Linked DNA regions of Homo sapiens. The protein of the gene in region 4 purifies or fractionates together with the protein of the main gene of each other region. This does not show direct contact. Each region holds a gene or a part of one and is shown on either strand. Other genes may lie near its edges.

Evidence for each region. Proteins that work in one complex are often made in the same cells at the same time.
Region 1: the proteins of TIGD6 (region 4) and CHAF1A purify together in Homo sapiens (affinity purification with mass spectrometry; one large-scale study listed by BioGRID and IntAct). This does not show direct contact.
Region 2: the proteins of TIGD6 (region 4) and MRPL13 purify together in Homo sapiens (affinity purification with mass spectrometry; one large-scale study listed by BioGRID and IntAct). This does not show direct contact.
Region 3: the proteins of TIGD6 (region 4) and UBE2V2 purify together in Homo sapiens (affinity purification with mass spectrometry; one large-scale study listed by BioGRID and IntAct). This does not show direct contact.

Annotation. Positions count from the first base shown.
Region 1 is NC_000019.10:4,430,140-4,433,639, forward strand, and holds part of CHAF1A (chromatin assembly factor 1 subunit A), read left to right. Parts: intron 1-409; coding exon 410-502; intron 503-1,812; coding exon 1,813-2,068; intron 2,069-2,930; coding exon 2,931-3,400; intron 3,401-3,500. UniProt on the Homo sapiens protein: Acts as a component of the histone chaperone complex chromatin assembly factor 1 (CAF-1), which assembles histone octamers onto DNA during replication and repair.
Region 2 is NC_000008.11:120,407,151-120,410,650, reverse strand, and holds part of MRPL13 (large ribosomal subunit protein uL13m), read left to right. Parts: intron 1-3,500.
Region 3 is NC_000008.11:48,014,931-48,018,430, forward strand, and holds part of UBE2V2 (ubiquitin-conjugating enzyme E2 variant 2), read left to right. Parts: intron 1-3,500. UniProt on the Homo sapiens protein: Has no ubiquitin ligase activity on its own. The UBE2V2/UBE2N heterodimer catalyzes the synthesis of non-canonical poly-ubiquitin chains that are linked through 'Lys-63'. This type of poly-ubiquitination does not lead to protein degradation by the proteasome.
Region 4 is NC_000005.10:149,995,137-149,997,654, reverse strand, and holds part of TIGD6 (tigger transposable element-derived protein 6), read left to right. Parts: intron 1-1,225; 5' UTR 1,226-1,306; coding exon 1,307-2,518.

The DNA of each region.
Region 1 (3,500 bases), on a different chromosome or scaffold from region 4:
CTGTCGGGAGGCCATGCAAAGCAGATGTTCACAGCTTTACATTTTTTTGTTTCTTTAAGATGGAGTCTCACTCTATCACTCAGGCTGGAGTGCAGTGGCGCGATTTCGGCTCACTGCAACCTCTGCCTCCCAGGCTCAAGTGATAGTCCTGCCCCAGCCTCCCTAGTAGCTGGGATTATAGGTGCGTGCCACCATGCCCAGCCAAGATTTGTATTTTTAGTAGAGACAGAGTTTTACCATGTTGGCCAGGCTGGTCTCAAACTCCTGACTTCAGATGATCCGCCCACCTCAGCCTCCCAAAGTGCTGGGATTAGAGGTGTGAGCCACTGCGCCTGGCCTACTTTGTTTTTAATAAGGCACACACTCTGCTTTTCTATCTGATGAACTCTTTTTTTTTTCTCCTTTTGAGGATGATGATGACGACATGGGAGAGGATGAAGATGAGGACGATGGTTTCTTTGTGCCCCATGGGTACCTGTCTGAGGACGAAGGTGTGACAGAGGTGAGGGAGTGAAGGGGGAGGTCACCGGCTCAGCAAAAGTTCATTTCTGGACTGGTGCTCAGTGGCCTGACCTGGGAGGGTGACGGGGGTCCCAGCCCAACCATACGAGATTTGGACTGCATTCCAAGCACGCAAGCTCACTCGTGGGAACAGCTGGGCCTGAACTTGGTATTACCTGGGAGGGTGGCAGACGTAGGAGGAGCTTGCAAGCGAGGGGAGCCATAGGAGCAGACACCCTGGTGAGGGAGCGTGGCCATGGTCTGTGGGTTAGAAGGCTGGAAACCACCCGAGCTGACATACAGTCAGCATGCAGCAAGACATGTGCATTGTAAGTGTTGAGTTTGATGACGTAACAATCAAGTGAATGTGGGCAACCACCGCCCGAAATAAAACAGAACTTCCCTATCTCTCCAGAAGATTGCCCACGTCTCTGCAGGCGAACCTGCCTGCCACCCCTTTCCAGATTCCATAAGGTTGTGGAACTGTCTTTTTTTTTTTTTTTCTTGAGACGGATTCTCATTCTGTTACCCAGGCTGGAGTGCAATGGCCCGGTGTTGGCTCACTGCAACCTCTGCCTCCCGGGTTCAAGCAATTCTCCTGCCTCGGCCTCCCAAGTAGCTGGGACTACAGGCGTGTGCCACCACACCTGGCTAATTTTTGTATTTTTAGTAGAGACGGGAGTTCATTATGTTGGCCAGGCTGGTCTTGAACTCCTGACCTCCAGTGATCCACCCGCCTCGGCCTCCCAGAGTGCTGGGATTACAGGCATGAGCCACCGAGCCCGGCAGGAACTTGCTTTCAAGCAAGTTGTTTTTGGTCCTGTTTTGTTTTGAAGGCCTGTCGTTTGGGAAGTGGGGATTTGGTGGGACTGTCTCATGGTTGGACTGGAGGCCTAGGCATTCCTTGTGCATATCTGACCACCGAGGCCTGAACTGTCAGTCAGAGAGTGGTCTCAGGCCCTGCATGTGTCTGCCAGATGCCTGGGCCATGTGGGTAGACACCCAACCCTGTTAAACGGCTCCACGATCACACATTCACCAGAAAATTCAGAGGGGTGTTAAAAGAGGCCTCATGGGTGAGTTCAGAAATATCTGTGACGCTCCCAAAGGAGACCAGGTGTGAATTATTCCATCTGGAAGAGGGGCAGCCAGCGCATGGTGTGCTCTGCCCTGGCCCTGACACTGTGGGAAGTTTTGTGCCCCTGTCCTTTCCTCTTGCTCCCCAGCTGGCTGGGGACTGGTTCCTCAAAAGAGTGCCCGGGCATAGGGGAGCAAGAACCCCAAATAAACTTCTGCTTTCTAAACCACAAGGAGTGTGCCGACCCTGAGAACCATAAGGTCCGCCAGAAACTGAAGGCCAAGGAGTGGGACGAGTTCCTGGCTAAGGGGAAGCGCTTTCGCGTCCTGCAACCTGTGAAGATCGGCTGCGTGTGGGCGGCTGACAGAGACTGCGCAGGCGATGACCTGAAGGTACTGCAGCAGTTCGCAGCCTGCTTCCTGGAGACCCTGCCGGCCCAGGAGGAGCAGACGCCCAAGGCCTCCAAGCGGGAGAGGAGAGACGAGCAGAGTGAGTGTGGGCGGGGCCAGGCCACCCACCTGTTCCTGGGCCCAGCTAATTCCAGGGCTGAGGGCAAGAGTCACAGGCTAGTGGGTCCGTGATGCAAATGTTCTTTCCACAAATAACAGAGGCCAGCCCTTTTCCTGTACATGTCCGTACGTTCAATGATGTCCCTAGCAGCAGGACGAGGCAGGTCCCTTAATTGGCTTGTTTTATCAACCAGGACACAGGCACAGAGAGTGCTGGAGTGGGGGCTGTGCTTTCTCAAAAGCCAGGGAGGGGCCGGGCACAGTGCCTCATGCCTGTGATGCCAGCACTTTGGGAGGCCAAGGTGGGAGGATCGCTTGAGCCTAGTGCTTCGACACCAGCCTGGGCAACATGGCAAAACCCCATCTCTGCAGAAAATGCAAAATTACCTGGGTGTGGTATCACGCACCTGTGATCCCAGCTACTCAAGAGGCTGAGGTGGGAGGATTGCTTGAGCCTAGGAGTTTCAGACCACAGTGAGCCATGATCCTGCCACTGCACTCCAGCCTGGGTGACAGAGCAAGACCCTGTCTAAAAAAAAAAAAAAACTCAAAAAACTGGGGAGGGACCATGGCACACAAGGAGAGCAGGGCAGTCATTTGGGTAGGAACAGCAGGCATTTGAAGTCAGCCCTGGCAACACACGTGCCCGGCCAAGGCTCACTTCTGGGCAGGTGCGTAGGTGCTACCCTGTCTTACACCCGCCCTCATGAGGCCACCTATCCCCGAAGCTGGCCATGCCCCAAGCCTCGGTGGCAATGAGCTTGTGTATGTGTTTTGTTTTTTGGCCTGTGGTGATGGGTGGCTCCCCAAGCCTCATGCCCACCCATGTTCCCTCCTGCCAGTCCTGGCCCAGCTGCTGCCGCTCCTGCACGGCAATGTGAACGGGAGCAAGGTCATCATCCGGGAGTTCCAGGAGCACTGCCGCCGGGGACTGCTCAGCAACCACACCGGCAGCCCGCGGAGCCCCTCCACCACCTACCTGCACACCCCCACCCCCAGCGAGGATGCCGCCATCCCCTCTAAGTCCCGGCTCAAGCGGCTCATTTCCGAGAACTCAGTGTATGAGAAGCGGCCTGACTTCAGGATGTGCTGGTACGTGCACCCGCAGGTGCTACAGAGCTTCCAGCAGGAGCACCTGCCCGTGCCGTGCCAGTGGAGCTATGTGACATCGGTGCCCTCGGCCCCCAAAGAGGACAGTGGCAGCGTCCCCTCCACGGGGCCCAGCCAGGGCACTCCCATCTCGCTGAAGAGGAAGTCAGCGGGCAGCATGTGCATCACCCAATTCATGAAGAAGCGCAGGCACGACGGCCAGGTGAGGTGGGGTGGGCAGGTGGGGGCCTCTGCAGGGCTTTTCTTTTTTTGTTTGTTTTTTGTTGTTTTGTTTTTTTTTCGAGATGGAGTCCTGCTCTGTC
Region 2 (3,500 bases), on a different chromosome or scaffold from region 4:
TTTATTTGATGTAATTTTAGTAAATAAAATTACGTGTTAGTGAATAAAATTACGCTACCTTCATATGGCTAGTGTCTACATTATTGGACTATGCTATTTTAGTTATTGGACTATGCCATTTTATAAAGTTCTATTAAATATTATATACTTTAGAATTAGAATTAAAATATTTGATATGCCATGCAGTTCAATTCATGGAACATGAGGTTTTTATTATTAAAGGATTGCCTTTATTAGAAAAAAATTTTTTTCTCCTTTTGGAGAGGACCTTGCTTAAGATATGCTTTTGTTCTACCCAACATAGCTAAGCCAAGAATATAATTTTCCTTTGGAATGTAGTAACTGGAATTTGTTTAAGATAAATCTGATGGTGAATCTGCAGAGACTTGACTGAAACAAATGTACCTGCATTGCGCCACAAGTATATAGCCACAAAAATAGCTTGCTCTGGTGTTTGCTGCCCTAGTAATAAAACTTAAAATATGTTCATAATATTAGAATGTACATCTTATAATTTGAACTATTATTAATATTTGGTTAAATATAAGTTTATTAACTTTTCTATTAGAGACTAAAAGCTTCTGAGCAGCAGAAACAATTATCAAAGAGCTTTGAACCCAGTAGATGATTAACAAAATTGCTTTAATCTTAATTAAAAGCTAGCATTGTTGGGATTTTATTTAAATTATTTTAAATCATCTTCAAAGATTATATTCTTTCAGGCCTAGTTTCAGCATACATTAGGTTTTCTTTTGCTAGTTGTTGTTCAGTCATTAGTTATTGTCATTTTTAAGCTATGGTAGGAGATAAGGAATGAAATTGATATTTATGACAAAACTATACTTTTTTAAAACTAAAAGCCATTTTATATATACTATGGGTACTATTGCCCATTCATCTCACTTCTTAAGTTAGTGGATATTCTTGGTGTATTAGTATATTTTACATAAATCATGGATACATAAATTTTGTGAAAATATGTTAGGAAGTTTATTTTATATTTCTTGACTGTACAAAGCAGATATGTATTTGCAATGTGCAAATGGTGACTGTGGGGTTTATACTTAGATTTTTTTTCTTTTTTCTTTAAAGGAAAAAAATAGCACTATCTTTTCTTCACAATTCTGTTGCTTAAGATTGTAGCTTTAAAATGGTCAATTTATTTTAATACTATCAATTGTTACATGATTATTGCAGTTTTGCCAACACATTTCACAACCCCAATAATCATGGAAATTAATCATGCTCATTGTAAGGGAAATGTTTCAAAATGTAGTCTACAAATAAAACTTGGATCATTTTAAACTTTATTTTCAAGTTTTGCAAAATGATGCAGGAGAGCTTTTCCTAAGGAAAACTACGTATGTGAAAAAATTCAACTTGAATTGCTTTGCATTATTTTTCCTTACATGTTAATTCAGTAAGAAATGCTTGTTTTAAGCAAAACTCTCACCTTTGTAGAGAAGCTAACCATGGAAAGCTTCAGCATCAATACATGCTTGAACACAGGTTTTTATAACAGAAACCTGTGTTCCTGGTGTTTCAGTACTCTAGAGTGTGCTATTAGAAATGTGCCTGCAAAGGAGAGATGGATGGTAAGGATGAAGACAAGGAAGTATGAGGACAACCATTACTGATGCAGAACTGTCTCTTCGAAAGTAGGATGAGGATTAGGGAGTTCAATATGTGATCCATTCAGCTCTGTAAAAGAAAAGCTGGATTCCAGATGCTGGGAACATTAGCACTGCATTGGTGAGCATCCTCTTCAGTCTATAGCTCTAGAAGAGAGCACGGATTTAAGCTTAGTGCATATTCTCTGATATGAAAGCTGTTAATCCTAAAAACTACCCATTTTCAGATTTACTTAATACTCAGAAAAAGATTATTTTTACCTATGCCTTTATAAAACATGCTTCAGATCAGAGACTTAAAGACAATGTAGAAGGATTTTTACCTTTTCTAATCCATAAGTTGCTGGGATCTGGACAGCTTTAAGATTTTCCATAATTTTCTTCTAGTCTAGTCATGTGGCATTTTCTCCACACAATTTAACTTAATTTGCTGCTCTTCACAGTCAGCAGTTACTAGCTGGACTTGTGGACTAAGGTTACTTTCCAACTTTCCTACCTATTTCAACCAGTTCAGCATTGACTTCAATGATAGACTTCAGTCTTTCCAGTCCTGGGTTTTGCTCAAATTAGGCATTCTAAGCTGTACTGTTCTTTTGGATGTGAATAGATCAGGACTGGCTAGTAAAATAAAAAAGTAGTCTCTATTTAAACAACAAAACCCAAATCATTTATAAGTCCTAGCTGATACAGATTTTGACTAAAAAAGTGCAGTTGAATGTAATGGCAATTTCTGTTCATTTTAATTGAAAAAATCATTTGGCAAAAATTTTCAACAATCTTACAGGTTTAGTTTATTTAAAAGTATGTTGATCTGTAGGTCTGGATCTGAAAGGGAAGAAACAAAAAAGAATAATCAAGAAAGGATTTAAAAAAACATTTTATTTAAATGTATGTTGAGCTTTTTCGGATCAGGATGGTGCTACAGTGCCTAGGAAAATTAGTATTAAGGCACCATTACTTTACCTCTCAGTATAGCTAGCATCTTTAAAGAATATGTGATGTCACCAGATTTCCTGAAATGGTTTATTCTAAATAATTTCATTCATTCAATGGAAGTGACTTAAAACTCAAACTGACCTTTTATCGCTTTTAAGATTAGTTCACCATCCAAATATTATTTTAGTCTTTTAAATGTTTCATAGAATAAGCATTATACTAAGAAATATTATGTAAGAGTGAAAAGACATAAAACCTATTGAAGAAAAAAATTTTTTTGAGATTTATTACACTTAAGCTACACTCAATTTCCTGGACTTACAGCTGAAATAGGGAATTTTTTTACTTGAAAAATAAATTATTCTTAGTAGGACCAATAATGTATTTTTTGTTTTGTTTTGTTTTGTTTTGTTTTGTTTTGTTTTGTTTTGTTTTAGATGGAGTTTTGCTCTTTTTGCCCAGGCTGGGGTGGTGAAATGGCGCGATCTCGGCTCACTGCAACCTCTGCCTCCCGGGTTCAAGCAATTCTCCTGCCTCATCCTCCCAAGTAGCTGGGATTACAGGAGCCCGCCACCACGCCCAGCTAATTTTTTGTATTTTTTGTAGAGACTGGGTTTCACCATGTTGGCCAGGATGGTCTCGATCTCTTGACCTCATGATCTGCCCACCTCGGCCTCCCAAAGTGCTGGGAAGTAGGACCAATAATGTTAAGTGTCACTTATCTTAATGTAGCATAAACCATGTGCTTCATAACTTGATGTTTTGTTTCATTCACAACCAAGTAAATTTTTCCTACCATTTTATAATACAAACTAAAATCTCCGAAAAGTTTTTTCCTAATGTTAAGAGGTGAGAAATTACTCCATTTTCAAGATAATATAAATGTTTTGACTTCTGTCATTTCTGAATTCTGAATTTGAATCTGCTTTTTTG
Region 3 (3,500 bases), on a different chromosome or scaffold from region 4:
TCCTGGCTACTGGGGAGACTGAAGCAGTAGAATGGCATGAACCCGGGAGGCGGAGCTTGCAGTGAGCTGAGATTGTGCCACTGCACTCCAGCCCGAGTGACAGAGCGAGACTCCATCTCCAAAAAAAAAAAAAAAAAAAAATAAGGCTTGTCAAGAGTAGCTTGAGGCTGGGTGCAGTGGCTTCCACCTGTAGTCCCAGCACTTTGGGAGGTCGAGGTGGGTGGATTACTAGAGCCTAGGAGTTCAAGACCAGCCTGGGCAATACAAGAAAATCCCATCTCTACAAAAAATGCAAAAATTAGCTGGGTGTGGTGATGTGCACCTGCAGTCCCAGCTACTTGGGAGGCTGAGGTAGAGTATGGGTTGAGCCTGGGAGGTTGAGGCTGCAGTGAGCTGTGATCGTGTCACTGCACTCCTGCCTGGGCGACAGAGCAAGACACTGTGTCAAAAAAAAAATTAATTTGAACAATGCTTGCTAATGTTTTGAAGTACATTATCTGTACATTGTGGAATGGTTAAATCTAGCTAATTACCAAATACATTATCTCACATAGTTATCATTTTTGTGGTGAGAATACTTAATAGCTACTGAGTATTTTTCAAGAATACAGTATGTTGTTAACTAATCACCATGCTATACAGTAGTGCTCTTAAACTTGTTCCTCCTGACTGTAATTACGTATCCTTTGTCTAACATCTTCCCAATCCCCACCCCCGTAACCCCAACCATCCTAACCTCTGGTAACCACCATCTCCTGTCTACTTCTGTGAGATCAATTTTGACTCCATATATGAGTGAGATAATATGTATTTGTCTTTCTGTGCCTGTGTTATTTCAGTTAACATAATGTTCTCCAGGTTCATCCATGTTGTTGGAAATGAGAGAATTTCCTTCTTTTTTATGATTGGAACAGTGTCCCACTGTATACGTATACCACATGTTCTTTATCCATTTGTCTGTGTGGTTTTTTTTTTTTTTTTTTTTGAGACGGAGTCTCACTCTGTCACCCAGGCTGGAGTGCAGTGGCGCGTTCTCAGCTCACTGCAACCTCCACCTCCTGGGTTCAAGCAATTCTCCTGCCTCAGGCTCCCTAGTAGCTGGGATTACTGGCACCCGCCGCCAAGCCCGGCTAATTTTTGTATTTTAGTAGAGATGGGGTTTCACCATATTGGCCAGGTTGGTCTCAAACTCCTGACCTCAAGCAATCCATCTGCCTCGGCCTCCCAAAGTATGGGGATTACAGGCGTGAGCCACCGCGCTCAGCCTATCCATTTGTTGGTTGATGGATACTTAGGTTGATTCTATATCTTGCATATTTTGAGTAGTGCTGCAATAAAATGGGAGTGCAGGCCTCTCTTTGACATACTGATTTTATTTTCTTTGGCTATATATGCAGTAGCAGGATTACTGGATCATACGGTAGCTCTGTTTTTAGGTTTTTGAGGAACTCCATACTCTTCTTTCTCCATATGGTTGTACTAATTCACATTCCCACCAACAGCATGCTTAGATTATCCTTTATCACCACATACTCACCAACACTTGTTATCTGTCATCTTTTTTTTTTTGAGACGGAGTTTGGCTCTTGTTGCCCAGGCTGGAGTGCAATGGCATGATCTCGGCTCATTGCAACCTCCACCTCCTGGGTTCAAGCAATTCTCCTGCCTCAGCCTCCCGAGTAGCTGGGATTACAGCCACGCACCACCATGCCTGGCTAATTTTGTATTTTTATTAGAGACGGGGTTTCTCCATGTTGGTGAGGCTGCTCTCGAACTCCCAACCTCAGGTGATCTTCCCACCTTGGCCTCCCAAGGTACTGGGATTACAGGCGTGAGCCGCCGTGCCCAGCCTTTTTTTTTTTTTTTTTTTAATTGAGACAGAGTCTCGCTCTGTCGCCTAGGCTGGAGTGCAGTGGCGAGATGTCAGTTGACTGCAACCTCCACCTCCAGGTTCAAGCGATTCTCCTGTCTTAGCCTCCCGAGTAGCTGGGATTACAGGCACCCGCCACCATGCCTGGCTAATTTTCATATTGTTAGTAGAGACATGATTTCACCATGTTGGCCAGGCTAGGCTGGTCTCAAACGCCCGACCTCAGGTGATCCACCTGCCTTGGCCTCCCAAAGTGCTGGGATTACAGGCGTGAGCCACTGCGCTTGGCCTCATCTTTCATCCTTTTGATTATAGCCATTTTAATGGGAGTGAGGTGATACCTCATGTGGGTTTTTTTTTGCATTTCTTTGATGATTAGTGATGTTGAGAATTTTTTTCATATACCTCTTGGCCATTTGTATGTCTTTTGAGAAATGTCTATTCAGATCTTTTACCCATTTTTACATGAGGTTATTTTCTTGGTATTGAATGGAGTTCCTTATATATTTTGGTTATTAACCCCTTATCAGATATATAGTTTACGAGTATAGTGAACCATTCTGTATGTTCTCTCTCTCTTTTTTTTTTTTTTGGTGGAGTTTCGCTCTTGTTGCCCAGGCTGGAGTGCAATGGCACGATCTCAGCTCACTGCAAGCTCTGCCTCCTGGGTTCAAGGGATTCTCCTGCTTCAGCCTCCTAAGTAGCTGGGATTACAGGCATGTGCCACCATGCACTGCTAATTTTGTATTTTTAGTAGAGACGGGATTTCTCCATGTTGGTCAGGCTGGTAATAAACTCCCGACCTCAGGTGGTCTGCCTGCCTCAGCCTCCCAAAGTGCTAGGATTACAGGCGAGAGCCACCGCGCCTGCCAGTTCTCTCTTTATTGTTTCCTTTGCAGTGCAGGAGATTTTTAGTTTTATGTGATCCAAATTGTCTGTTTTTGCTTTTGTTGAGTGTGCTTTTGAGGTCATATCCTCCAAAAATCATTGCCCAGACCAATGCCATTGACTTTTCTTCCTGTTTTCTAGTAGTTTCATAGATTGCCTTTTTTTTTTTTTTTTTCCTGAGACAGTCTCAACCTGTCACCCAGGCTGGAGTGCAGTGGCATAGTCACGGCTCGCTGCAGCCTCAACTTCCCAGGCTCTCACCTCAGCCTCCCGAGTAGCTGGGACTACAGGTGCACGCCACCATACCTGGCTAATGTTTTGTATTTTTAGTAGAGATGGGGTTTCGCCATGTTGGCCAGGCTGGTCTCGAACTCCTGACCTCAGGTGATCCACACGCCTCGGCCTCCCAAAGTGCTGGGATTACAGGTGTGAGCCACCATGCCCAGCTGCACAATGCCCAATTTTGCCACTTCTGTTCAACATAATACTGGAAGTCCTAGAAAGAGCAATAAGACAAGAGAAAGAAATACAAGGCATCTTAATTGGAAAAGAAGTTAAACTGTTCCTGTTTGCAGAAGACATATGATGTCAGTGTTTATTGTTATAAAAACTTCTGTCTTAAAACTGCTTTTGCTGTATTCCATAGGCTTTGTATGCTGTGTGTTTCAGTTTTCATTTTTTTCAATAAACTTCCTAATTTGTTTTTTAATATCTTCATTGACCTATTGGTTGTTCAAGAGCA
Region 4 (2,518 bases):
TGGCCACCCACCTTTGTCATATACTTGGATTCATGCAAATATTTCAGTTCCCTGAATACCTCAAGCTATTTTCGGTGTGTGTGTTTTTTTTGTTTTTTGTTGTTGTTGTTGTTTTTGAGACAGAGTCTTGCTCTTGTTGCCCAGGCTAGAACGCAAATGTACGATCTCAGCTCACTGCAACCTCCGCCTCCTGGGTTCAAGTGATTCTCCTGCCTTAGCATCCCAAGTAGCTGGGATTACAGGCACCCGCCACCACGCCCGGCTAATTTTTGTATTTTTAGTAGAATCGGAGTTTCGCCATGTTGGCCAGGCTGGTCTGGCCGCCTTGGCCTCCCAAAGTGCTGGGATTACAGTCATGAGCCACAGCGCCCGGCCTATTTTTGCTTTTGAGGTTTTGCTGATGCTATGTCTTTTGCTGGACAGCCCTTTCCCCATATTCTTGGAGATCTCAGCTTCAGTGCCATCTTAGTGAGGACATCCCTGACCACCCTTTGTATAATAAGTAGATCTTCCTCTTTTATTCTTTGTCATAGTCTTTATTTCCTTTATAGCACATATCACCCTCTGTAATTATCTGTTTACTTTTTATATTTCCCACCACATTTTATATTTCATAAGAACAGGGACCTTGACTCTTTTGTTCATTACTCTACCCTTAAAGCTTGGCACCTGTAAATATAAAATGAATGTATGGCTACCAGAAACATCTTCCCACAGTAAAAATCTTTCCAGGCCAGATGGTGGTAGAGCTTTGAAGATCTCACTTTGGTGGAATTTCAAGCAGGACCATGGCCTGGCAGAAATAGTAATCTGAGTTAAGAAATCTAAGCTGCATGAACCCGGGTAGGCCCCTTCCCAGGGCCCCAGTTTCTGTGTCCATCAAAGAAGCTGGAGAATAACTCGGAATGTATACAGTGCAATGCTATTTGCCAAGCTCTTTCACTGCCTGTTATTTCAATCTGTTCTCATGGTAGGCAGAGCAAACATTGTTATTCCCATTTTTATGGAGGTTCAGAATGTTTAAGTAAGCTAGATAAGATCACTTCTGTTTCAAACATTCTGAGTCTTTACAAGTAGCCTCTACAAAAAGTCAGTAGCATGAATCCTATCTTTTCTTTACTTTGACTGTAAATTGTCCTTTCCTAATACAATTTGTAAAAATCCTGAACCATCTTTTAGGGGAAATCCATTGTTTCCTGATAGGTACTCCATTTTGTCTTCTCAGCTTTCCACACTTGGGGCAAAGCAAGCCGCGAGGAGGAACCAGACAGTCCTGTTAGTTGTGGCCAGCCCTCATTCCCTGGAAATGGCAAACAAGGGGAACAAGAAGCGTCGGCAGTTCTCTCTGGAGGAGAAAATGAAAGTTGTGGGAGCTGTAGACTCAGGCAAGAGGAAAGGTGATGTGGCAAAAGAATTTGGTATCACTCCCTCTACTTTATCTACATTCTTAAAGGATCGCACCAAATTTGAAGAAAAGGTGCGGGAGGCATCCGTGGGACCCCAGCGGAAAAGGATGAGGAGCGCTCTTTATGATGACATTGATAAGGCTGTTTTTGCTTGGTTTCAAGAAATCCATGCCAAAAACATTCTTGTGACTGGTTCTGTCATTCGGAAAAAAGCACTAAACTTGGCCAACATGCTTGGCTATGACAATTTTCAAGCAAGTGTGGGCTGGCTGAACAGATTTAGAGATCGCCACGGAATTGCTTTGAAAGCAGTCTGTAGAGAAGATAGTGACAGGTTAATGAATGGTCTAGGAATAGATAAGATTAATGAGTGGCATGCAGGGGAAATTATAAAACTGATTGCTGACTACAGCCCAGATGATATCTTTAATGCTGATGAGACAGGAGTGTTTTTCCAGTTGCTTCCCCAGCACACACTTGCTGCTAAAGGAGACCACTGTAGAGGGGGCAAGAAAGCAAAGCAGCGGTTGACAGCACTCTTTTGTTGCAATGCCTCGGGGACTGAAAAAATGAGACCATTGATTGTTGGTAGGTCAGCCAGCCCACACTGCCTCAAGAACATTCATTCCCTCCCTTGTGATTACCGAGCCAACCAGTGGGCTTGGATGACAAGGGATCTGTTTAATGAGTGGCTGATGCAAGTGGATGCCAGGATGAAGAGGGCGGAACGCCGGATCCTCTTGCTCATAGACAACTGCTCTGCTCATAACATGCTTCCACACTTGGAAAGGATTCAGGTTGGGTATCTGCCCTCCAACTGTACTGCTGTCCTGCAGCCACTGAATCTTGGCATAATTCACACCATGAAAGTACTGTACCAGAGCCACCTTCTAAAACAGATCCTCCTCAAGCTCAACAGCAGTGAGGATCAAGAAGAGGTGGACATCAAGCAGGCCATCGACATGATTGCTGCAGCGTGGTGGTCAGTCAAGCCATCCACAGTGGTGAAATGTTGGCAGAAGGCAGGCATCGTCCCTATGGAATTTGCAGAATGTGACACAGAATCAGCAGCCAGTGAACCAGACATTGCCATTGAAAAGTTGTGGCACACA